Homo sapiens: one gene and its partners. The protein of the gene in region 1 interacts with the protein of each later gene in a biochemical or structural test. Each region holds a gene or a part of one and is shown in the gene's direction. Other genes may lie near its edges.

The links.
Region 2: of the proteins of ARIH2 (region 1) and APOBEC3G, one has a biochemical effect on the other in vitro, tested with the Homo sapiens proteins (2 studies listed by BioGRID).
Region 3: of the proteins of ARIH2 (region 1) and APOBEC3F, one has a biochemical effect on the other in vitro, tested with the Homo sapiens proteins (one study listed by BioGRID).

What each region holds. Positions count from the first base shown.
Region 1 is NC_000003.12:48,969,551-48,978,826, forward strand, and holds part of ARIH2 (E3 ubiquitin-protein ligase ARIH2), read left to right. Parts: intron 1-1,044; coding exon 1,045-1,154; exon of another isoform or gene 1,155-1,291; intron 1,292-4,148; coding exon 4,149-4,266; intron 4,267-5,114; exon of another isoform or gene 5,115-5,266; coding exon 5,267-5,317; intron 5,318-5,407; coding exon 5,408-5,429; coding exon of another isoform or gene 5,430-5,498; intron 5,499-9,276.
Region 2 is NC_000022.11:39,079,363-39,088,638, forward strand, and holds the end of APOBEC3G (DNA dC->dU-editing enzyme APOBEC-3G), read left to right. Parts: intron 1-1,570; coding exon 1,571-1,865; intron 1,866-2,108; coding exon 2,109-2,223; coding exon of another isoform or gene 2,224-2,227; exon of another isoform or gene 2,228-3,813; intron 3,814-4,368; coding exon 4,369-4,522; intron 4,523-6,916; coding exon 6,917-7,205; intron 7,206-7,648; coding exon 7,649-7,764; intron 7,765-8,044; coding exon 8,045-8,059; 3' UTR 8,060-8,381; downstream 8,382-9,276.
Region 3 is NC_000022.11:39,049,952-39,057,836, forward strand, and holds the end of APOBEC3F (DNA dC->dU-editing enzyme APOBEC-3F), read left to right. Parts: intron 1-2,122; coding exon 2,123-2,402; intron 2,403-2,625; coding exon 2,626-2,744; 3' UTR 2,745-6,021; downstream 6,022-7,885.

The sequences.
Region 1 (9,276 bases):
AACATGGCTCACTGCAGCCTCTGACCTCCCAGGCTCAAGCAATCCTCCCACCTTAGCCTCCCGAGCAACTGGGACTACTGGCGCGCACCACCAAACCCAGCTAATTTTTGTATTTTTCGTAAAGATGGGTGTTTCACCATCTTGCCCAGGCTGGTCTCGAACTTCTGAGCTCAAGCCATTCACCCGATGCAGCATAACTTTCATCTTTGTCTTTTTTGCCTAAGCTTTTCAGATTAATTTATGGTCTGGGTCTTGTCATGCACATGCCGCAGGATAAACAGAAGGCCTTGTTCTTTATGCTGTTTGCTGCCTTTGAGGGTCATTGAGCTCCTCAGATATATGTTTTTTTTTTTTTTTTGAGATGGAGTCTCACTCTGTCACCGAGGCCGGAGTACAGGGACACGATCTCAGCTCAATGCAACCTCTATCTCCCAGGTTCAAGCGATTCTGCAGCCTCAGCCTCCTGAGTAGCTGAGGTTACAAGCTCGCGCCACCACACCCAACTAATTTTTGTGTTTTTTAGTAGAGACAGGGTTTCACCATGTTGGCCAGGCTGGTCTCAAACTCCTGACCTCAGGTGATCCACCTGCCTCGGCCTCCCAAAGTGCTGGGATTACAGGCATGAGCCACCGCGCCCGGCCTTGTTATTTTTTATTTTTTTCAGAGACAGAGTTTCACTGTCATCCAGGCTGGAATGCATCGGTGCAATCAGCTCACTGCAGCCTGAAATTTCAGGCCTCAAGCAGTCTTCCCACCTCAGCCTCCTGAGTAGCTAGGACTATAGGCAGGAGCCACTATGCCTGGTGCAATTCTATATAAACTTAGATCATTCCAGTGAGTTGCTACCTGGTTTAAGCTAAACGTTCTAAATTCCTCTTTAATATCTGGCTTACGTTTGGTCTTCACATCCTTTCTGAATTTATATAGCCCCTTCGTATAAGTCATCAGCTGGGAGAACAGAAAGTGTTTGAATATTCAGGGGGTTCTGATTTTTAGACAGCAACTAAGAGATGTCCTCATTGTTTCCTCTTGGTGTGTTCACAGAGTCATTACCAGCTCCAGCTGTGCCCTGGTGCAGACTGCCCCATGGTTATTCGGGTACAGGAGCCTAGAGCTCGCCGAGTACAGTGCAATCGGTGCAACGAGGTCTTCTGGTAAGAGTGAGTGTGAGTGCTGAGCAGCCCTGGGCTCATGCCCCATCCTCCAAAGCACCACTGCTGTTGCTCCATGTGAGGGCGGCACTGGAAGAGGCAGGGTCTCTGAGCCAACAGAACAGCTGTGCTCCAAGTGGGTAGGTTTATGTCCAGCATCTCATATTCCACTAGGTCTTCAATACATGCTCAGTCTGGAGGCAAGGAAGTGACACAGGTTCTTGGAAAATGTGTTGTGGCTTATGCTACTAGGTCTCATGGCCCAGAGATTGTGTGGGATGTATCTGCCTGCATAGCTAATCACATATTACTGTGTTTGAAAGATATAAACTTGAACATTTTAATCTTTCTCTGTCTTGGCCTTACTTGGCTAATTTTTGTTAAACTAAGTCATAAATATATTCTACATCTACTCAAGGTTCACTTCATTCAGTAGATACCATGGGAATAACTAAAGTTTACCGAAGGCTTACCAGGTGACAGGCACTATCCTGATCACTTACCCTGCATTATCACAACTGTATATGACCCTTATATTCTCTCTTTTTTTGTTGTTTTCTTGAGACGGAGTCTTTCTCTGTAGCCCAGGCTGGAGTGCAGTGGCACATACTTGGCTCACCACAACCTCCGCCTTCCAGGTTCAAGTGATTCTCCTGCCTCAGCCTCCTGAGTAGCTGGGACTACAGGCATGTGCCACCATGCCCAGCTAATTTTTGTATTTTTAGTAGAGACAGGGTTTCACTGTGTTGGCCAGGCTGGTCTCAAACTCCTGACCTCGTGATCTGCCCGCCTTGGGCTCCCAAAGTGCTGGGATTACAGGATTGAGCCAACCGCGCCTAGCCATGACCCTTATATTCTATGAATAAATCAAGGTACAAGGTAAACCTAGTAAATCGTAGAGCCATAATTTAGGCCCAGATCTGTCCTAATCATACCTCCCTGGAATATTCATGGTGGGGCTTCAGAGAAACTACATGGAAAATGTGATGTGTGTGTGTACGCACATGCCTGCATTTCAAGACATTATTGACACCAAAGGTTAAGAATCACTAATGCAGTGGTTCTTTCATTTTAAATCCGGCAGCCCCCAGGATCACAGCAGATTCAGAAGACTCCTTGTAATTGTTCTTTATCCTTGTGTCCCACTTTATGAAATTCTTTCCCTGGGTATTTGCCTGAGGGCCTTTTCTAGCCACAAAGTACTGTTGGCCTCCACAAAAGAAAATTTCAAAATATGGAAGCCTAGCCCGACGAATATTGGAGTGTCTTTTTTTTCTGTTTTAAGTTTCAGTGTCATCAGATGTATCATGACCCTACAGATTTTGCACGTTCTGGCATTTGTGCATTCTTGTGTGCATATCTGACTGGGAGATCCGATGAGACTCCCGGAAGTGGGTCTCAATCCTGCCTTAGGTCTGAGCTAAGGAGTCCTTCTCAGAGCACCTCACCATGCCCTTTGAGAGTCATAGCTCTGTGTTTGACATCTTGGGAGTTGGTAAACAAGATGTTTAAACAAGGTATTTAACATACATATCATAGCTCACTGCAGCCTCAAACCCCTGGGATGAAGTGATCCTTCTGCCTTAGCCTCCCAAGTAACTGAAACTACAGATGCCCAGCTAATTTTTTTAAATTTGTTGTAGGGGCCAAGTGTGGTGGCTCACACCTGTGACCCCAGCTTTAGGACCCCTGTGACTTTAGGAGACTGAGGCGGGTGGATCACCTAAGGTCAGGAGTTCCAAGACTAGCCTGGCCAACATGGTGAAATCATGTCTCTACTAAAGATACAAAAATTAGCCAGGAATAGTGGCAGGAGCCTGTAATCTCAGCTAGTCAGGAGGCTGAGGCAGGAAAATCACTTGAACCAGGGAGGCAGAGGCTGCAGTGAGCCAAGATCATGCCATTGCACTCCAGCCTGGGTGACAAGAGCGAAACTCCATTTCAGAAAAAAAATTGTAGAGACAGGGTCTTCCTATGTTGCCTAGGTTGGTTGGTCTCAAACTCCTGGTCTAAAGCAATCCTTTTTTTAAAAAACAGGGTCTCTCTCAGTTGTCCACGTTGCAGTACAGTGATGCGAACACAGCTCACTGCAGCCTTGACCTCCAGAGCTCAGGCAAATCCTCCTGCCTTAGACTCTCTAGTAGCTGGGACTACAGACACATAGCACTACACCTGGCTAATTTTTTCATTTTTTGTAGAGATGGGATCTCACCATATTGCCCAGGCTGGTTTCAAACTCCTGGGCTCAAGCAGTCCTCCCATCTCAACCTTCCATAGTGCTAGGATTACAAGCATGAATCACTGCACTCGGCCTACAGAAATATTTTATTTGTGCGTGTTAGAGCATGTCTTACAAAGGCTTAAGTTGAAGAGACATTCATGCAGTATTTCAGTATAACTCTGGGTAGGTAAAGGTTCCACAAGCCTTGAGAGATAACTTTACCTATTTGAAAAGCTCTAGGCCGGGCACAGTGGCCCACGCCTGTAATCCCAGCACTTTGGGAGGCTGAGGCGGGCAGATCTCGAGGTCAAGAGATCAAGACTATCCTGGCCAACATGGTGAAACCCCATCTCTACTAAAAATACAAAAATTAGACTGGGCGCGGTGGCTCACGCCTGTAATCCCAGCACTTTGGGAGGCCGAGGTGGGTGGATCACGAGGTCAGGAGATCGAGACCATCCTGGCTAACACGGTGAAACCCCGTCTCTACTAAAAATACAAAAAATTAGCCGGGCATGGTGGCGGGCACCTGTAGTCCCAACTACTCGGGAGGTTGAGTCAGGAGAATGGCATGAACCCGGGAGGCAGAGCTTGCAGTGAACCGAGATCACGCCACTACACTCCAGCCTGGCGACAGAGCAAGACTCTGTCTCAAAAAAAAAAAAAAAAAGAAAAAAGCTCTAATTCATGATTTGTTGGCTTGGATAAAAGGAAAATTTTGAACATGGGACCCTGACTTAATGAATATTTGAATGTTTTTCTTTTCCAATTTTAAGTTTCAAGTGTCGTCAGATGTATCACGCACCCACAGACTGTGCCACAATCCGGAAATGGCTCACGAAGTGTGCAGACGACTCTGAAACAGCCAACTACATTAGTGCTCACACTAAAGACGTAAGGACCGTATTTTACCTCTCATGGATTTGCCCTCCTTAGTGCTGCCCAGGGCCTTGCCTTGGAGATTTGCCATCTGAGAGCAGAATACCCAGAGCCCCAGGACCCTTCCTGAGGACTGGGGGTTTGGGGACCCTCACACAGAGTTGGCAGCTCGTAGCAGTTTATTATAGGATGCATTGGGTGCATATTTTCTTTATTATGATGAAATGCCAAAATGCCAGGAAAGGGGGACCCAAAGGGGGAGCTAATTAGAAGAGAACTAATTATGATTGAACGCCTACCAGCCTTTAACAGCCCTGAAAGGGAGGTGGTTAATAGCCACACTTGATACATATAAGGCTGTAATGCAAGCCCAGACCTGCACGATACTCATTTTGAAGTCTCCCATGGGAAAGTATGGCCTGTGGGCTCTAGGGGCCACTGTACCCTTTGTCAGTCACTCGCCGAGTCAGTGCACTCACAAGCACAGTTACGATAACGACATTATTAAACATAGTCGACTTCACGGCAGTGGGAGATCACAGCATCAGACTGGTGTCTTCATTGCTGCCTCAGGTTGCTGGCATCTCTCAAATGGGAGAGATGAGCTTTAGATGTGGTTTCCTTGCCCTCTTCTCGAAGCAGAAGTTCAGGCAAGCTGACCAGGACTGAATCCATTGTGGCAGCTCCTGTGCTTCTTTGGCAGTCCTCTCAAGAAGGCAGGCTTTCTGCTGATTCAACTTGTGCTTAATCTGAGTAGCTTCATGGCAGGGGCAGATGGTGGAAGACTTAGTGGGGTTCAGCTGGTGCTTGAAGCATTTCAAAGCTAAATGTGCTGACCTCATTTCCTTGAATTGCTGTTCCAGCCTCAGCGACCTGCCACATTTAAGTGAGGTGCTCCTCCCCAGAAGTGCTCACACCATGAGCAACTGGGCACAGGTGCCAGGAGCTTTGTGTAATTTGTCTTAAAACCAACCTGGTGGTGTGTGAGCCTAATGGCACCCTTCTGTCTCCTCAGTGTCCCAAGTGCAACATCTGCATTGAGAAGAATGGAGGCTGCAATCACATGGTGAGCAGAAGCCTCTGCAGTTTGCATGTGTGACATGGAAGCTTTGGTCAGTGTGCCCTTAACGTGTTTTCTTCTGTTTCCCTCTGACAGCAATGCTCCAAATGTAAACACGGTGAGTTCCAAGCTTGGTGTGTAAGGCCCAGTGGCACTTTCTTGTGGTTGGGTCTCCGTTACTATTTAAGTGAGTACTTCTGCCATGAAATGACAAAACATAGAAGAACCTCAGTCACTTAACAGTCACAGTAACTGGCATAAAGTAGCTTTTTATTTTTATTTTCTGTTTTTTGGTCCCTCTTATAATCCCACTGCTATCTTGCTAACACATATAGTCAGAAGTCAAGTTTGGGATAAACCTCATGATCCTCAGTTATCCAAGAAGATGATTTCAGGGTGTTGCTTTCATTTTTTTGCCAAGGCAGGTAAGTAGCTTGGGGCTTATCTGTGCTACGTTGTAGATACCTTTACCAGAAGTAGTAAAATAATGGTTTTCCCTTGCCGTTTTACAAAGTTTCTAGTGGGGGTTTTGATTTAGCCTTTCAGACCTCCTTCATCCATCAGGAATAATTTACATAGCTAGAACCCATGTATGCCATCCGGCCAGGTCAACTGAAGAAACAGAATCCCTTCAAGTAGAAAATATGTCCAAGTGGGTCTTCTACGCAGCTGCTTTGATGCTCAACAGGAGCCCCTGACAGTTTCTTTTTTTTTTTTTTGGGAGAAGGAGTCTCACTCTGTCACCCAGGCTGGAGTGCAGTGGCGCAGTCTTGGCTCACTGCAACCTCCATCTCCTGGGTTCAAGCAGTTCTCCTGCCTCAGCCTTCCAAATAGCTGGGATTACAGGCATCTTCCACCACGTCTGGCTAATTTCTGTATTTTTAGTAGAGATGGGGGTTTGCCATGTTCGAGGCTGGTCTCGAACTCCTGACCTCAGGTGATCTCCCTACCTTGGCCTCCCAAAGTGCTGGGATTACAGGAGTGAGCCACTGTGCCCGACCGAGAATTTTGCTTTGTAAGGGCCTATGCAAATGCTATTTCCAGGAACCCTCTTTTCTTTATTTTTTGAGACAGAGTCTCAGTCTGTCGCCCAGGCTGGAGTGCAGTGGTGTGATCTTGGCTGACTGCAACCTCCACCTCCTGGGTTTAAGCAGTTCTCCCACTTCAGCCTCCTGAGTAGCTGGGATTACAGGCACTCACCACCACACCTGGCTACTTTTTTATATTTTTAGTAGAGACGGGGTCTAACCATGTTAGCCAGGCTGGTGTCCAACTCTTGACCTCAGGTGATCCGCCTACCTTGGCCTCTTAAAGTGCTGGGATTATAGGCATGAGCCACCGAGCCTGTACTTTTTTTTTTTTTTTTCCAAAGATGGAGTTCTGCTCTTGTCGCTCAGGCTGGAATGCAATGGTGTGATCTTGGCTCAATGCAACATCTACCTCCTGGGTTCAAGCGATTCTCACTCCGCCTCCCCAGTAGCTGCTATTACAGGCGCCCACCACCACACCTGGATAATTTTTATATTCTTAGTATAGATGCGGTTTCACCATGTTGGCCAGGCTGGTCTCGAACTTCTGACCCCAGGCAATCCGCCTGCCTCGACCTCCCAAAGTGCTGGGATTACAGGTGTGAGCCACCGCTCCCGGCCCCAGGAGCCCTCTCAATCAGAGTGGTCATGCCAGGATCTTAGACAGCAACATTGACTCTGCAGTGCCAAACGAAGATAGGCCATGGGTAGTGGCATATTTCTTCTGTGGGGCCACATTCTTTCGCTCTCTTTTTCTTTGTATATATCAGAGAGAGAAGTGTATCATACACTTAGAACAATGCAGAAGACACAGAGTTTAAAGAATAATGACAAACATCCCAGCACCCACCACATTCCTAGTGCCTAAGAAGCCCCCTGGGTGTCCATATCCCTTGACACCCAGAGTTCACTGCCATCTCACGAGAATCACTTGAACCCCGGAGGTGGAGGTCACAGTGAGCCGAGATTGTGCCACTGAACTCCAGCCTGGGCGATAGAGCGAGACTCTGTCTCAAAAAAAAAAAAACTGGCTGGGCGCGGTGGCTCACGCCTGTAATCCCAGCACTTTGGGAGGCCGAGGTGGGCGGATCATGAGGTCAGGAGATCGAGACCATCCTGGCTAACATGGTGAAACCCCATCTCTACTAAAAAAAAATACAAAATTAGCCAGGCGCAATGGCGCACTCCTGTAGTCCCAGCTATTCGGGAGGCTGAGGCAGGAGAATCGCTTGAACCAGGGAGGTGTAGGTTGCAGTGAGCCAGGATCGCACCACTGCACTCCAGCCTGGGCAACAGAGTGAGACTCCGTCTCAAAAACAAACAAACAAACAAAAAACTGCCATCTCTTTCTTTGCTGTATGTTTTATACCACCTATATGGGCAACCGTAGGGAATGTGGTTTTTTGTTTTGTTTTGTTTCGTTTTTTGAGATGGAGTCTCACTCTGTCACCCAGGCTGACAGGCTGAGTGCAGTGGTGCGATCTCGGCTCACTGCAACCTCCACCTCCCAGGTTCAAGCAATTATCCTTGCTCGGCCTCCTGAGTAGCTGGAACTGCAGGCACATGCCACCATACCCAGCTAATTTTTGACAGAGTCTCACTCTGTCGCCTGGGCTAGAGTGCAGTGGTGCGATCTCGGCTCACTGCAACCTCCGCCTCCTGGGTTCAAGCGATTCTCCTGCCTCAGCCTCCCAAGTAGCTGAGATTACAGGCGTCCGCCACTATACCCAGCTAATTTTTTGTATTTTTGGTAGAGACGGGGTTTCACCTTGTTGGCCATGCTGGTTGTGAACTCCTGATCTCATGATTAGCCCACCTTGGCCTCCCAAAGTGCTTGGATTACAGGCGTGAGGCACCGTGCCCGGCCTGTATTGTTCTTTAAAATGGTAGCAAGCACACCTAGCTAATTAAGGAGAGGGCATTGTTGCCACTATTAGGTGAAGGCTCCCAGGAGGAGAAAAATTGAACAACCTCTGGGTCTCCGGGTTTTGCTTTGGCTTCCCTAAAATGATTCAAGAGCCTCATTTTTGGGGAAGTCAGTAAGCCAAGTTATCCCTGGAGAGTGAATCCTGGGAAACAGGATTTACCATTGTCAGGGTCTGGAAGAGGCAGAATAGGCCAGATATAAAATCTAATAAGGTATTATTAGAACAATGTGTGTTCTAGACAACCAGGAGGACTTCAGACAAGTTTTGCTTCTCATAGCAGCCTTGACACAGATATAACAAGGCACATAGCCCATGTGCTCATGGAATGCAGAATATCAACAGGCCATTGTTCATCCAACAAAACTGTGGTTGGCTTCTCTCCATTAGACTGCAGTAATTCTTTGAGCATCTAACAATAATTTTTTGAACATATAGGGGATTTTTTTTTTTTTTTTTGAGACACAGTCTCGCTCTGTCACCTAGGCTGGAGTGCAGTGGTGTAATCTCGGCTCACAACCTCCGCCCTACAGGTTCAACCAGTTCTCGTGCTTCAGCCTCCCAAGTAGCTACTGGCATGTGCCACCACACCTGGCTAATTTGTGTATGTGTGTGTGTGTGTGTGTGTGTGTGTGTGTGTGTGTGTGTGTGTATATATATATATATATATTTTTTTTTTTTTTGGTAGAGACGGGTGTTTCACCATGTTGGCCAGGCTGGTCTCAAATTCCTGACCTCAGGTGATCCATCCGCCTTGGCCTCCCAGAGTGCTGGTATTACAGGTGTGAGCTACCGCAAAAGCAGAATCATAATTCTGATTATGAACCATTGGATAGCTCTAGGTTTTATAGAAATGTGTTATTTGCCAGGCGCAGTGGCTCACGCCTATAATCCCAGCACTTTGAGAGGCAGAGATGGGCGAATCACTGAACACTGGGGGTTCTCGAGACCAGCCTGGCCAACATGGTGAAACCCCATCTCTACTAAAAATACAAAAATTAGCCAGCATGTT
Region 2 (9,276 bases), on another chromosome or scaffold:
GCTGGAGTGCAATGACGCGATCTCGGCTCACAGCAACCTCTGCCTCCTGGGTTCAAGCGATGCTGTCGCCTCAGACTCGCAAGTAGCTGCGATTACAGGTGCCCACCACCACGCCCAGCTGATTTTTTTTTTGTATTTTTAGTACAGATGGGGTTTCACCATATTCACCAGGCTGGTCTCGAACTTCTGACCTCAGGTGATCCACCTGCCTCGGCCTCCCAAAGTGTTGGGATTACAGGTGTGAGCCACAGCGCCGGCCTAATTTTAATATTTAATTAATCCAATGTGGCTAACATATTACTTCAACATTAATTAACATAAAATTCTTGACAAGATAATGAAGTTTCTTTTTCTTGTCACACCGAGTCTTTGAAATGAGCTGCGTGGGTCACGTACAGTGGGTGGCTCGCACCTCTAATCCCAGCACTTTGGGAGGCCAAGGCGGGCAGATCACCTGAAGTTAGATATTCAAAACCGGCCTGGGCAACATGGTGAAATCCCATCTCTACTAAAAATACAAAAAAAAAAAAAATTAGCCAGGCATGGTGGCAGTCACCTGTAATCCCAGCTACTCGGGAGGCTGAGGCAGGAGAACCGCTTGATCCCATGAGGCAGAGGTTGTAGTGAGCCAAGATTGCATCCTTGCATTCCAGCCTGGGCAACAAGAGCGAAACTCCATCTCAAAAAAAAAAAAAGAAATGAGTGGTGTATTTTTCAGGTGCCCAGGTCTCTAATCAGAGCCCCATTTCAAGTACTCAGTAGTCCCTTGGCCATGTCACCCCCCCCGACATGGACAGTGCAGGTCCAGTGGGCTCCCCACTGACTGCAGGCAGGGAACAAGGCAGACCCTAGAGGGCCAGGCCACAGTAGGGGCTGAGGATGTCTGGTGAATGGATGCCTGGGAGAATGGATGCTAGAATTCACACACGAGGCCATGAACAGGGCTGGGAAAACTTCCAAACTCAGGGAAGCACGTGTCTTGGTGCACCTTGTGATGCTTCAACAGCAGGACTGAGATGGGGACATTTACAATGAACAGAAATGTATGGGCTCGAGTTCTGGACTCTGGGAAGTCCCCTGTCAATGCACCAGCAACTTTCCAGGGCCTGCGAGCTGCACAGTCACGTGGGGGTGAAGGTTGTTGCCAGAAGCTCAGGGGATGCTCCAGACAGAGTGGCCTGGGATGTCGAGTCACTGCTGCTCCGTGACATGGGGGCAAGAGGAAGCAGTTTAGTCTGACATACTGCCCCCCCAGCTAGAGGGCAAGAGACAGAAAGAGGGGCTGAAGTCGCCCTTGAATAACCACAGCAGTGGCACCCACAAAGGTGCAGTTCCCACAGCCTCATAGCTGCTTGTAGGTGCCACCTCTTAAGGCCATTACCATAGCAATTAATACTGAACATGAGCTTTGGAGCAGACAAACACTCAAACCGAACAGGGGGATGGAGGAAAGGAGCTTCAATGGCAAGATCTCCTGGACTCCTGTCCTGGCCCCTCCTCCCCCTGCCCCACCCCTGCTCTCCTCCTGCTCCCCCTCTCAGAGCTTGCCCTGACCCTGCTCCTCTCCCAGGTGTATTCCGAACTTAAGTACCACCCAGAGATGAGATTCTTCCACTGGTTCAGCAAGTGGAGGAAGCTGCATCGTGACCAGGAGTATGAGGTCACCTGGTACATATCCTGGAGCCCCTGCACAAAGTGTACAAGGGATATGGCCACGTTCCTGGCCGAGGACCCGAAGGTTACCCTGACCATCTTTGTTGCCCGCCTCTACTACTTCTGGGACCCAGATTACCAGGAGGCGCTTCGCAGCCTGTGTCAGAAAAGAGACGGTCCGCGTGCCACCATGAAGATCATGAATTATGACGGTGAGAAGTGGGAGGTTCAGGGGTGTGGGAGAGACTGCTTAAGTGTCTGTGATGGGTCCTTCCCACACATACCTGTGGGTCTGCTCTGATGCCTGCAAAGGCCAAGTGTCCCAGGGGAGCCTGTGGGGTTGGGTCTGGCGCTGACTGTAACTAGTATCTAGAATATGTCTGGGAGGGGAGGGTCCCGAGGTCACAGAAGAGAGGCCAGCTGGGCTTGACTGCGTTCTCTCTTCTTTTTCTTAGAATTTCAGCACTGTTGGAGCAAGTTCGTGTACAGCCAAAGAGAGCTATTTGAGCCTTGGAATAATCTGCCTAAATATTATATATTACTGCACATCATGCTGGGGGAGATTCTCAGGTGAGGGTCTCCCTCCAGGCTCATCGCCTCGCTCCTCTCACCTCCTGCTCATCCTCTTGAGGCCTCCCCTCTGTTCCAGACCAGGTCCTCTCCTGGCCAGGCCCTCCTGCCTTCCCTCCTGCCCCCTGCCTGCCCTCGTGGTTACACTCCCTCACCCACACTCCTCGTGCTCCCTCCACCTCCCTGCCTCCCACCTGCTTTCCTGGGCCCTTCCTGTGAGTGAGAGGCCCCTTCTGCCTCCAGAGCAACCTCCATCCACCCCCACAGCCTGGGAGCCCCAACCTGGCCCCTTCCATCTCCCTGGCATAACCGAATTTGTCGTAAAACTGGACGTAGTAAGTGGGCATGAATAGTCACAAGCCCGGCAGTCAGAAGCTTTGAGCAACATCCTTAAAGGCCAACCTGAGCCCCTGAGAAGGAGCTGCCTCCATGGAAACAGAGCTTCAGGCTTCGGCTGCCATAGAAGATGGCCGGGCTGGGTGCCCACAGGGCAGGCATTTATTTTCTCACACATCTGGAGGCTGCAAGTCCAAGGTGGAGGGGTGGGCGGGGTTGTGTCTTCTGCAGTCGCTCCTCCTGGCTGGCAGGGGGTCCCTTCCGGCCCTGTCCTCTCTGGCCTTTCCTCTGTGCACCTGCACTCGTGGGGTCTCTCTGCCTCCAAATGTCCTCCTCGTTTATGGACCCCAGTCATGTGAATTTGGGCCCACACTGAAGGTCTCATTTAAGTTAATCATCTGATGAAAGGACCTGTCTCCAGGCCAGGTGCAGAGGCTCATGCCTGTAATCCCAGCACTTTGGGAGTCCAAGGCGGGTGGATCACCTGAGGTCAGGAGTTCGACACCAGCCTGGCCAACATGTTAAAACCCCATCTCTACCAAAAATACAAAAATTAGCCGGGAGTGGTGGTGGGCGCCTATAATTCTAGCTACTCGGAAGGCTGAGGCAGGAGAATCGCTTGAACCCGGGAGGCGGAGGTTGCGGTGAGCCCAGACTGCGCCGCTGCACTCCAGCCTGGGCAAAAAAGCGAAACTTCTTCTCAAACAAACAAACAAGAAAGAAAGGACCTGTTTCCAAATACAGCCACCCTTTGAGGGAGCGGGGGTTAAGGCTTCAATACATTGATTTTGGGGAGAAACAGTGAAGGCCACGGCAAGAAGCTGCAGTCATTGTGGGCGGGCCTGGGTGGGGAGTGCAGGGGTTCCTGTCCTGTGTGTCTGTTTCCCAGGGGAGTCCTGACCTGACTCTCACAGCCCCTCCACCCAGATGTTCCTGTGTGCTTCACCCACCCCATTCCTTCTGCACCCAACACTCCTGAGCCCCTCCTTAGCTCCCCCGACAGGCTCCCCTGCTCCCCCACTCCCGGGCTGCTCCTCTTCTCAGCCTCTCTCTGGGCCTCTCTGGGGTCCGGACATGACCCCTCAGCTGATGCCTGTGGCTTCCCCAGCCAGAATCTTCCCAGTTCCAGGCTGGGCTCTGCAGAGTCCTATCAAAGGTGGCATCCTCCCCTCTGTCCACTCCAGGGTGAAGATCTGGTGTTTCTGGTTTGGAAATGCCTCTGCACTGGGTGCTAATAATTCACTTTTACCTTTATAATTGTGGTTTTGTAAGGACAGGTATTTTTGGCAACAGAAGAAATCCTGTGAGTTATTTAAAAAAAAACAAAAAAACTCCCTGGCAGGCTCTTCTCCCCGCTGGTCCCGCTCAGGAGTGTCTCTGCCCTGATGCTGGGTGTGGCAAGAGTTAACCCTGTAGGCAGGAGGGGTGCCCCAGTGGGTCCACCTCCAGCAAGGACTGAGAGCGAGCAGAGCCAGGACTGGGGTCTATGGTGAGGCCAGGGAAGAAGACCCAGCTGTACCCCAGGGAGAGGGCCTGAGCACACTGAGCTGACCCTGGGGAGACCCTGACAAGGCTTAGACAGGCCCCAGGGCTGCCGTGATCTCCCAGTGAGCCCCAGAAGGGGTCAGAGGGGGAGGTTTGGAGGCTCTAGCAAGTGAGTGGGAGCCCCTTCTGACAGGTGCTAAGGGATGTGGGGAGCCGGGGGAAGGAAGGAGGGTGGGGTGCAAGGGAGGAAGCGTGGAGAGGGAGGGGGAGGTGGGACAGACCAGGAGGGCTCTTACTCCTCTGGGCTTTTCCCCCACTTTCCAGACACTCGATGGATCCACCCACATTCACTTTCAACTTTAACAATGAACCTTGGGTCAGAGGACGGCATGAGACTTACCTGTGTTATGAGGTGGAGCGCATGCACAATGACACCTGGGTCCTGCTGAACCAGCGCAGGGGCTTTCTATGCAACCAGGTGACCAACCCAGCCACCCGCATCCAGGCAGGGCCCTCCCAACCCAGGGACACCCATGGGCAGAAGGTTCTGGGTGGTACCTGTGGTGTCCTGCAGAGTGTCTGTCACCTGTGCTTCCTGTAGCTGCTGCTGCTTGGCCCTGGGGTTGGGGGAGACTTCGGCTTCAGTGACTCTCCAGGATTGGTGGCTTCCAGCCCCACACGCCTAACCAGCCACATGTCTCAGGGGCTAACACCACTAGTCCAGAGTCACCCCCAGGTCCAGGTCTCAGCCGTCCCCACTCCTGCTGTGCTCTGAGAGGGTCAGGGCAGAGGAAAAGGGTCTGCACCAGGGCCAAGTGGGATCAAAGAAAAAGCGCTTCCGGCCGGGCACGGTGGCTCATGCCTGTAATCCCAGCACTTTGGGAGGCCGAGGCTGGCGATCACAAGGTCAGGAGATCAAGACCATCCTGGCTAACACGGTGAAACCCCATCTCTATTAAAAATACAAAAAATTAGCCAGGTGTGGTGGCAGGCGCCTGTAGTCCCAGCTATTCAGGAGACTGAGGCAGGAGAATGGCATGAACCTGGGAGGCAGAGCTTGCAGTGAGCCAAGATCGTGCCACTGCACTCCACCTGGGCAACAGAGCGAGACTCCGTCTCAAGAAAAAAAAAAAAAGTGCTTCCTGAGGACCCTCCCAGGATCCCCTCACAGACACAGCTCCCACCAGGAATGATTCAGAACTGTGGGATTTGAGGATCAGGGCCTACCTGACCTCACAAGGCCAGGATTCCCCAGTGCCTGCTCCTGGGCTTCATCCTGCGGGAAAAGAGACTGAGGCAGGAGAGGCCGACCAGGGATTCTGTCCTGACCAGGATGGAGCCCACAGCAAGGCCAGAACAGGCCCCAAGTCAGGATGCAGGGATGGCCAGCATTTGAAGAAGAGCTGGGCCAGGCCAGGCCGAGGGGCCCTGAGCCCGAGGGACGTTCTTCCCTCGCCCTTGCCCAGCACAGCCCCTGGCTGGAGAGGCCAAATTCTGCTTGGCTCTGGTGCTGGAAACGGGGTTCCTCTGGGCTCTATGAGCTTAATATGGGCCCTGCTGGGCCCACACACACTGCTTGGAAGCTACTTTCAAAGGCACCGGTCCCCATCACTGTCTAACCAGTGGGATGGGACTCCCCCAGGAATGACCCACAGCCCCTTCTCAGCACAAATCGTGTCATCCATTCTACCCCGAGTCCTCTCTGCACTGGACTCCTGGGCTTGACTAGTTCCCAGTCGAAATTTGGACAAAACACCATCATTCCTTGGGCTCAACAAGGACAATCACCCCATGACTGGGGCCCTTCCCAATGTGGGGTTAGTCCTGCTGGGGGCCCCTCATCCCCACTTCTCCCTGCAAAGGGAGCCCTCTGGCCTCAGTCTATGTCACTCGTGGGCTTAATACAGGGTAAAGCACAATGTGGAAGCTTCTAGAATTATAGGTCACAGAAGGGGTGGGGCAAGGGGAATTGACGGGTAGACAGGTCAGCCTCCCCATGAGGGAAGCACACGCAGCTCAGTGGCATCTGTCCTCCCTCCCCCAGCTCTACAGCCCCTCCCTGCAGGCCTGGGGCGGAGTGAGGGTCCTGAAGGCACTGACCTCATGTGCAGAATGAGAGGATGCTCCAAATACTCAGTATCAGAGAAATCTCATCGTAATGGAAAATTAAATTATTTAATAGATTATTGTAAAAATCCGGTCAGGTGTGGTGGCTCATGCCTGTAGTCTCAGCACTTTGGGAGGCTGAGGCGGGCAGATCACTTGAGGTCAGGAGTTCAAGACAAGCCTGGCCAATATGGTGAAACCCCGTCTCTACTGAAAATACAAAGATTAGCCAGGCGTGGTGGTGCATGCCTGCAGTCCCAGTTACTGGGGAGGCTGAGACACCAGAATCGCTTGAACCCGGGAGGTGGAGGTTGCAGTGAGCCAAGATGGCGCCACTGCACTCCAGCCTGAGTGACAGAACCAGACTCTGTCTCAAAGAAAAGAAAGGAAAAGAAAAGAAAAGTCATCTTGATAACTGGGGTTTGGTGCCCCCGTCTAATTTTGTGCTGGAGGCTGCCCCGCACCCACCCTGATCCAGGCTGTCCCTCCTGACTCACTAAAAATTCCCTCGGCCGGGCGCTGTGGCTCATGCCTGTAATCCCAGCACTTTGGGAGGCTGAGGAGGGCAGATCACCTGAGGTTGGGAGTTTGAGACCAGCCTGAACCACATGGAGAAACCCCTTTTCTACTAGAAATACAAAATTAGCCTGGTGTGGTGGTGCATGCCTGTAATCCTAGCTACTTGTACACTCCAGCCTGGGCAACAAGAGTGAAACTCTGTCTCAAAAAAAAAAAAGATTACCTCATGGCTTGCTTTCTTTTCTAGGCTCCACATAAACACGGTTTCCTTGAAGGCCGCCATGCAGAGCTGTGCTTCCTGGACGTGATTCCCTTTTGGAAGCTGGACCTGGACCAGGACTACAGGGTTACCTGCTTCACCTCCTGGAGCCCCTGCTTCAGCTGTGCCCAGGAAATGGCTAAATTCATTTCAAAAAACAAACACGTGAGCCTGTGCATCTTCACTGCCCGCATCTATGATGATCAAGGAAGATGTCAGGAGGGGCTGCGCACCCTGGCCGAGGCTGGGGCCAAAATTTCAATAATGACATACAGTGGTGAGAATGGAAGCCTGGAGTAGGATGGGGTCAGCCAGGGCAGGAGAGGGCCCCGGGAAGTTACTAGAAAGTGGGGAGGGTCGGCATCCCTGTGGGAAAGGCCTTGATCCTCTGCCTGCAGAGGCGATGGCTGCACTCTGGACCTGACTTTGGGGTCGACGGGAAGAGAGAGGCCAGGCCAGGAGATGTGGACCTGGGGAGGGCGGGGAGGGTGGCTGGAAGTGGAAGCAGAACTTGGGGCTTCCAGAAAAAATGAGAACTGGGCTGGCCCAGATTCCAATAGGAAAGAAGTGCCTGATGAAGGAGCTAAGTCCCTAGGGGAGGGAGAGGGAAAGGAGGGACTGAAACCAGGATGTGGGAAGTCTGTCTTGAGAGTCATGGGCCTTTGGTGCCACCACGATCCCACAGCGGGAGTGTGACTTATCTCCCCTGTCCCTTTTCAGAATTTAAGCACTGCTGGGACACCTTTGTGGACCACCAGGGATGTCCCTTCCAGCCCTGGGATGGACTAGATGAGCACAGCCAAGACCTGAGTGGGAGGCTGCGGGCCATTCTCCAGGTGAGGGCTTCTTCCCTCTGCCCAGTGCCCCATCGGCCTCCCCCTCCTCCCCTCTCCCCTGCGCCGTGCCTTCCCCTCTGCTCAGAGCCTCCTCTGGGTTCCCTGCTCCCCCAGGGCACCTGTCTCTGTCCCTCCCTTTCCTTCTCACAGCCTCCCTTTCTCTCCCACCTCCCACATCCCTCCCTCCTCTCCGATCATTGTCACTGTCCCCAGGCCTCCACCATATGCCTACTTTCCACTCGCTCACCCTTTGCTCCATTCAACCTCCCTGCTCTTCCAGAATCAGGAAAACTGAAGGATGGGCCTCAGTCTCTAAGGAAGGCAGAGACCTGGGTTGAGCCTCAGAATAAAAGATCTTCTTCCAAGAAATGCAAACAGGCTGTTCACCACCATCTCCAGCTGATCACAGACACCAGCAAAGCAATGCACTCCTGACCAAGTAGATTCTTTTAAAAATTAGAGTGCATTACTTTGAATCAAAAATTTATTTATATTTCAAGAATAAAGTACTAAGATTGTGCTCAATACACAGAAAAGTTTCAAACCTACTAATCCAGCGACAATTTGAATCGGTTTTGTAGGTAGAGGAATAAAATGAAATACTAAATCTTTCTGTATATGTTTCCCTGTGTGATTGTATCATGAATTGCAAGTGTTTCCATAAACACTAGCAAATGTGTAGATGTCTTTCCTTGTGTAGCGGACCTGTAGCCGGGAAAGGTCACACGACATCCCTCTGGAGCCAGAAAACTCAGCTAAACCTCACAGGAGAGGAACCTAAATGCAGACCCCACCCTCACTCACAGAGCCCCGCCCACTCTCACTCACAGAGCCCTGGGCGCTGATTGGAAGGGACAGGCCCAGCAGTAAGAGGACAGCCAGCAGCCAGTCTCCCTGTTGGAAAGGAACCACACACGTGCAGTCAGGGGCCCTCGGGAGCAGCCCTGTGTCCACCCCTTCCTGAGTCCACCTCCTAGAGAGGGAGCCCAGGGAAGGCCATGGCTGAGACCCAGGACAGGCCCAGTCAGGGGAAGGAGCCCAGGGAGCGGGCAGGTGTCCAGGCTGGGCCCAGAGAGAGGGCTGGGAAGAGGAGCAGCCCAGGAGGCAGAGCCCAGCCACAGAGGGGAGGGGAGCTGAGTCCCAGGGACAGGAGGCTCCAGAGGCAGAGACGGAGCCCAGGGCTAGGGCGGCAGGTGTCAGGGCTGTGGCTTCAGCTTGGTGTCTGTCCCGGGTGTTCTGCATTGGTTCCCGACTCTGGGATGTGTTATTTATGTGCCTGATTACAGCAGGTGGCTCCCACCTCACGATTTCTGGAAAGTCCTCAGAAGCTGCGTATAAGACCAAGAAGGGGCCTCACACGCAGCTGCTCCTGGGCAGAAACGACTCACTGTTTCCCTGGCCTAGACACACACAACACGCACACACAATACTCGCACTACACACAACACACACACAACACACACAATACTCACACGACACACAATACACACATACAAGACACACAAAAACACA
Region 3 (7,885 bases), on another chromosome or scaffold:
CTCGGCCTCCCAAAGTGCTAGGATTACAGGCATGAGCCACCACGCCCAACTTCCTCCCACATTTTTTAAGTCCGTGGCCCAGATCTTCCTCCCTAACTTTCCTGGGATCAGATTGTCGAGGGGTTTTGCCTCTTACCAAAAGGCCTTGTTTAGCGCCCAGCGCCCTCACTCTTGACTTTGTTTCCCAAAATCTTGTCATGGAGCTGTGCGTCCGGCAGTCCTCGGGAAACAGCAGCTGTGGGAAGCGGTGGGTCTGGTGTCCAGCACTGTGCCTGGGCCAGTCACTGTGGGCTGGTGGGGCCGCCCCCGCCACTGCCCTGATTCCTCGATGTCAAGGACACATCCTCACAGGGTGGTGAACCCTCGCTCCTCACCCTGCCGCCCCCACAGCAGCCACTGACCTCCCACCCACCCTGTCGTGTCCCACCCAACCCTGCGGCCCCCTCCTCCCAGGCAGGAGATTTTTTCAGAGTGTGTTTGGGGAGGGAGCCGTCTGTGTGCTGGGCAGGCCTGGCCTACAGCAGTGCTGGCCTCGGAAACACCCAGGACTCAGGATGGAAGCGCGAGTGTTCCCAGTCCCCACACGCTAAAAAGGCGACAAGAACTTGTGGAAGAAATTTTAGTGTCTGCATTAGCTCAATTATCTCACATAGGATTTCAACATATACTTAATATAAAATGCCTCATGAGAGAGTTAAAGTTTGTCTATTCTCACAATGAGATTTTGAAATGCGCTGTGTATTTTACACGTGCCAACGTTTCTAATCAGAGCCCCATTTCAAGTGCTCAGTAGCCCCTTTGGCCAACCTTCAACTCCATGGGACAATGTGGGTCCAATGACCTTCCCAGCAGAAGGCAGACAGGGGACAAGGCAGACCCCATAGGACCAGGCCACAGCAGGGGCTGAGGATGCCCGGTTAACGGATGCCTGGGGAACAGGATGCCAGAAATCACACATGACCTATGATGAGACAGGAAAAGACTCAATAAAATAAAGAAGGAAGGGGCCGAGTGCAGTGGCTCACGCCTGTAATCCCAGCACTTAGCGAGGCTGAGGCGGGCGGATCATGAGGTCAGGAGTTTGACACCAGCCTGCCTAACATGGTGAAATCCCATCACTACTAAAACTACAAAAATTAGCCAGGCGTGGGGGTGTGCCCCTGTAGTCCCAGCTACTTGGGTGGCTTAGGCAGGAAAATCGCCTGAACCCAGGAGGCAGAGGTTGCAGTGAGCCGAGATCTTGCCACTGCCCCCCAGCCTGGGTGACAGAGCAAGACTCTGTCACTCAAAAAGATAAAGAGGAACGGCCAGGTGCAGTGGTTCACGCCTGTAATCTCAGCACTTTGGGAGGCCAAGGCGGGGGATCACGAGGTCAGGAGCTTGAAACCATGCTCGCTAACTCGGTGAAACCCCATCTCTACTAAAAATACAAAAAATTAGCCAGGCGTGGTGGCGGGCGCCTGTAGTCCCAGCTACTTGGGAGGCTGAGGCAGGAGAATGGCGTGAACCCCGGAGGCGGAGCTTGCAGTGAGCGGAGATCGCGCCACTGCACTACAGCATGGGTGACAGAGCGAGACTCAGTATCAAAAAAAAAAAAAAAGAAAGAAAAAGAAAAGAAAAAATAAAGAGCAAGGAGAAGGATGGAAGAAGGGAAATTCAATGAGTAAAAAGCCCTGGGGCCTAGTATGTACCCAAAAAAATGAGAAGTAAAGAAAATAAGGCCATGCATGTGGTTTATGCTCATAGTCGCAGAGTTTTGGGAGGGTGAGGCAGGAGGATGGCTTGAGCCCAAGAGTTCGAGATCAGCCTGAGCAACATGGTGAAACCCAGTCTCTACAAAAATTACAAAAAAATTAGGCAGGCGTGGTGGCACGCACCTGCAGTCCCAGCTAATCAGGAGGCTGAGGTGGGAAGATTCCTTGAGCCTGGGAGGTCAAGGCTGCAGTCAGCCCCAGATCGCACCACTGCACCCCAGCCTGGGCAACAGGAGAGACCCTGTCTCAAAAATAAATAAGGAAACGCCCTGGGGCTCCAGGCCCGCCCTCTGCTCCCATCGCCCCACCCCTGCACTCCTCCTGCTCCTAGTCTGAGCTCCCCTGCCCTCCTCCTCCTCCTTCCCCAGGTGGATCCTGAGACCCATTGTCATGCAGAAAGGTGCTTCCTCTCTTGGTTCTGTGACGACATACTGTCTCCTAACACAAACTACGAGGTCACCTGGTACACATCTTGGAGCCCTTGCCCAGAGTGTGCAGGGGAGGTGGCCGAGTTCCTGGCCAGGCACAGCAACGTGAATCTCACCATCTTCACCGCCCGCCTCTACTACTTCTGGGATACAGATTACCAGGAGGGGCTCCGCAGCCTGAGTCAGGAAGGGGCCTCCGTGGAGATCATGGGCTACAAAGGTGAGACGTTGGGGGGCTGAGGAGAGTGGGTGCGGGAGGGACAGCATGAGGGGCAGGTGTGTCTGCAATGCCGTGGGGCGGGGCAGTGTCCCGGGAAGCCTGCAGGGATGGCGCCAGTGTCCACTGCAACTGGCAGTCAGGAGACCTGGGCTTGGAGGGGAGGGCCCAGGGCTGGGAGAGAAGCCTGCTGGGCCCTCACTGCTTTCTCCTTGTTTTTTCTCAGATTTTAAATATTGTTGGGAAAACTTTGTGTACAATGATGATGAGCCATTCAAGCCTTGGAAAGGACTAAAATACAACTTTCTATTCCTGGACAGCAAGCTGCAGGAGATTCTCGAGTGAGGGGTCTCCCCGGGCCTCATGGTCTGTCTCCTCTAGCCTCCTGCTCATGTTGTGCAGGCCTCCCCTCCATCCTGGACCAGCTGTGCTTTTGCCTGGTCATCCTGAGCCCCTCCTGGCCTCAGGGCCATTCCATAGTGCTCCCCTGCCTCACCACCTCCTCTCCGCTCTCCCAGGCTCTTCCTGCAGAGGCCTCTTTCTGCCTCCATGGCTATCCATCCACCCACCAAGACCCTGTTCCCTGAGCCTGCATGCCCCTAACCTGCCTTTTCCCATCTCCCCAGCATAACCTAATATTTTTTTTTTTTTTTTGAGACGGAATTTCGCTCTGTCACCCAGACTGGAGTGCAATGGCTTGATCTTGGCTCACTGCAAACTCTGCCTACCAGGTTCAAGCGATTCTCCTGCCTCCGCCTCCCGAGTAGCTGGAATTACAGACGCCTGCCACCACGCACAGCTAACTTTTTTTTTTTTTGTATTTTTAGTAGTGACTGGGTTTCACCATGTTGGCCAGGCTGGTCTTGAACTCCTGACCTCAGGTGATCCGCCTATCTCAGCCTCCCAAAGTGCTGGGATTACAGGCGTGAGCCACTGGCCCGGCGGCACAACCAAATCTTATTAAACTCACCCTAGGCTGGCCGCGGTGACTCATGCCTATAATCCCCCAGCAATTTGGGAGGCAGAGGTGAGAGAATCGCTTGAGCCCAGGAATTCGAGACCAGCCTGGGCCACATGACAAAGCCCCATCTCTACAAAAAAATTACAAAAAAAAAAAAAACAGGTGTGGTGGCATGCACCTGTAGTTGAAGCTACTTGGAAGGATGAAGTGGGAGGATTGCTTGAGCCGGGGAGGTGGAGGCTGCAGTGAACTGAGATCACGTCACTGAACTCCAGTCTGAGCAACAGATCGAGACCCTGCCTGAAAATAAATCAATAAATAAACTCAACCGAAATGGGTATGAAAGTTGAAATGGGTATGTAAGTTGAAAACCAGAAGTTTTGAGAAACATCCTTTGTTAACTTTCATCCTACAAATTGGGTCATTCATGTCCTACGCAGCTAAAACAGAGCCCAGGAGCCAGGGAGGAAAAGCAGTCAGGCCACACACCATTGCTCCCAAAATGGACTTCTCTGCAAGCCTGACTCCTGAAACTGTGCATTGTACCCTGAAACCAGCTTTATCCATAGCTTCTGCAATAAATGGCTGTAAGTCTTGGACTCCTTGCTATAATCGCAGCTATTCAGCAATGGAACCTCCCAGTTCCCAACCCTTCCTAGTGCCCATGGGCTTTCCCATAGGACAAGAGAACATTTCTCCTTTTCTTTTTTTTTTTCTTTGAAATGGAGTCTCGCCCTGTCACCCAGGCTGGAGTGCAATGGTGCGGTCTCGGCTCACTGCAACCTCTGCCTCCCTTGTTCAAGTGATTCTCCTGTCTCAGCCTCCCGAGTAGCTGGGATTACAGGCGTCCACCACCAAACCAGGCTAATTTTTGTATTTTTCATAAAAACGGGTTTCATCATGTTTCCCAGGCTGGTCTTATTTTTATTTTATTTTTTGAGATGGAGTCTTGCTCTGTTGCCCAGGCTGGGGTGCAGTGGTGCAATCTGGGTTCACTGCAGCCTCTGCCGCCTGAGTTCAAGCTATTTTCCTACCTAAGCCTCCCAAGTAGCTGGGATTACATGCGCGTGCCACCACGCCTAGCTAATTTTTGTGTTTTTAGTAGAGACGGGGTTTCAACATCTTGACCAGGCTGGTCTTGAACTCCTGACCTCGTGATCCACCCGTCTCGGCCTCCCAAAGTGCTGGGATTACAGGCGTGAGCCACCTGGCCAGGCTTAGGCTGGTCTTAAACTCCTGACCTCAAGTGATCCAACCTCCTTGGCCTCCCAAATTGCTGGGATTGCTGGTGTGAGCCACAGCGCCTAGCCCATTTCTCCTTTTAATAGGACCTGTTGCTGTCTCTGTTCTCCCAACATGGTGAACACCACCCGGACTGCGTGTATGTCCCAAATTACAATTCTTTCTTTGCAAATGAAATGTGAAATTTAGAGGCCCTTCTCCACACTTTAAATTTGACTTGACATTTTCTAGGCAGATATAAGTTATTAGAGAATGAGATTCTCTATAAAAATGATCCCTTCATGCTGTGGCCTCCACAGAAGATGCCCTGGGCCAGGTGCCCACATGAATAATGCGGGCCACAGGCAGGCATTTATTTTCTCACAGATATGGAGGCTACAAGTCCAAGGTGGAGGGGTCGGCGGGGTTGTTTGCTCTGAGGCCGCTCCTCCTGGATGGCAGGGATCCCTTCTGGCTGTGTCCTCTGTGGCCTTTCCTCTATGAACCTGTACTGTACCTCTGGGGTCTCTCTGCTTCCAAATATCTTTTTTTTTTTTTTCAGACAGTTTTGCTCTTGTTTTCTAGGCTGGAGTGCAATGGCACAATCTCAGCTCACTGCAACCTCTGCCTTCCGAGTTCAAGCGATTCTCGTGCCTCAGCCTCCTGAGTAGCTGGGACTACAGGCGTGTGCCACCACGCCTGGCTAATTTTGTAGTTTTAGTAGAGACGGGGTTTCTCCATGTTGCTCAGGCTGGTCTTGAACTCATGAGCTCAGGCGATCCACTCTCCTCAGCCTCCCAAAGTGCTGGGATTACAGATATAAGCCACCATACACAACTTTTTTTTTTTTTTGAGATGGAGTTTCACTCTGTTGCCCAGGCTGGAGTGCTAAATAGCAGAATCACTGCTCACTGCAACCTCTGCCTGCTGGGTTCAAGCAATTCTCCCACCTCAGCCTCCTGAGTAGCTGGGATTACAGATGCCCAGAACCAATCTCTGCTAATTTTTCTATTTTTTAGTAGAGATGGGGTTTCACTGAGGAAGGAGACCACCTCTCTCATTGTCTCCTATTTCAGAAGGAAGCAAAAAGTTAGAAAGATGCAGAAGTAAGATCAATGGCCAGACTGTTTGGCGCTGCTACCTGGGCCTGGTAGTTAAAGATCAACTCCTGACCTGACCGCTTGTTTTATCTAAAGATTCCAGACATTGTATGAGGAAGCATTGTGAAACTTTCTGGTCTGTTCTGCTAGCCCCCACCACTGATGCATGTAGCCCCCCAGTCACGTAGCCCACGCTTGCACAATCTATCACGACCCTTTCACGTGGACCCCTTAGAATTGTAAGCCCTTAAAAGGGCCAGGGACTTCTTCAGGGAGCTCCAATCTTCAGATGCAAGTCTGTCAACGCTCCCAGCTGATTAAAGCCTCTTCCTTCCTAAAACTGGTGTCTGAGAGGTTTTGTCTGCAACCGTTCCTGCTACATCACCATGTACATTCCAGGCGAGGCTGGTCTCGAATTCCTGACGCCCACCTCTGCCTCCTAAAGTGCTGGGATTAAAGGCATGAGCCATGGCACCTGGTCGACCTTCTCCTTTATGGACCCCAGACAAATTAATTTGTGCCCACACTAGAGGTCTCATTTAAATTAATCATCTTGGTCGGGCGTGGTGGCTCACGCCTGTAATCCTAGCACTTTGGGAGGCTAAGGCAGGCAGATCACTTGAGGTCAGTGTCACACGTGTCCATGTGAAGAGACCACCAACAGGTTTTGTGTGAGCAACAAGGCTGTTTATTTCACCTGGGTGCAGGTGGGCTGAACCAGAAAAAGGAGTCAGCAAAGGGTGGTGGGATTATCATTAGTTCTTACAGGTTTGGGATAAACCTATCCCAAACCTATAAGTGTACATTCTTAAAGGCATACAAAGTACATTCTTAAGTGTGGGGGAGAATATTACAAAGTACCTTCTTAAGGGCAGGGGAGACTATATGGTATCAGTTGGGGTGGGGCAGGAACAAATCACAATGGTGGAATGTCATCAGTTAAGGCTATTTTCGCTTTTTTTTGTGGATCTTCAGTTGTTTCAGGCCATCTGGATGTATACATGCAGGTCACAGGGGATATGATGGCTTAGCTTGGGCTCAGAGGCCAGACATTCCTGTCTTCTTATATGAATAAGAAAAAACAAAATAGTGGTGAAGTGTTGGGGTGGCGAAAATTTTGGGGGGTGGTATGGAGAGATAATGGGCGATGTTTCTCATGGCTGCTTCAAGCGGGATTAGGGGCAGCGTGGGAACCTGTGGTGGGAGAGATTAAGCTGAAGAAAGATTTTGGGGTAAGGTGATATTTTGGAGTTGTTAGAAGGAGCATTTGTCGTATAGAATTATTGGTGATGGCCTGGATGCGGTTTTGTATGAATTGAGAAACTAAACGGAAGACACAAGGTCTGAATAAAAGAAGGAGAAAAATAGGTTGGTTTTTTTTTTTTTTTTTTTTTTTTGAGACAGAGTCTCGCTCTGTTGCCCAGGCTGGAGTGCAGTGGCACGATCTCGGCTCACTGCAACCTCTGCCTCCCTGGTTCAGACGATTCTCCTGCCTCAGCTTCCTGAGTAGCTGGGACTACAGGTGCACGCCACCACGCCCGACTAATTTTTTTGTATTTTTAGTAGAGAAGGGGGTTTCACCATGTTAGCCAGATGGTCTCAATCTCATGACCTCGTGATCCGTCCACCTCAGCCTCCCAAAGTGCTGGGATTACAGGCATGAGCCACCACACCCAGCCAGAAAAATAGGTATTAAAGGACTAAGAATTGGGAGTACCCAGAACATCTAATTAGACAGTGTCCAAGGGGGTTCAACATAATTATTTGCTTGGTTGGTGAGTTTTTGGCCTCTATCCTTGAATTTTTTTATGTTGTCATATACCTGTCCAGATTGATTTAGGTAAAAACAACACTCTTCGTTTAAAAATATACAGAGTCCTCTTTTTTTTAGCAGTGAGTAAGTCGATGCCTCGGCAATTTTGGAGGAAAGAGAAATGCAAAGCCAGCAATTGTTCATTTAAGAAGGATTAGAAATGGCTAAGAGAGAGTTTGATAGTGTGGTGGAGATAGCTGGGGAGAGGTAGAGGGTAGCATAAGAACGGAACCAGAATAAGAGTGAGTATAAAAGTAAAGAATAGGACTTCATCAGGGTGAAAGTACTGGAGGGTACCTTGCCACTGAAGATCTTCTATCGACTTCAAGAGCGACTTAAGGGTGGTGATTTGAAGTAAAACCAGGAGCCTCCAAATACCAAGAGCCTGAGA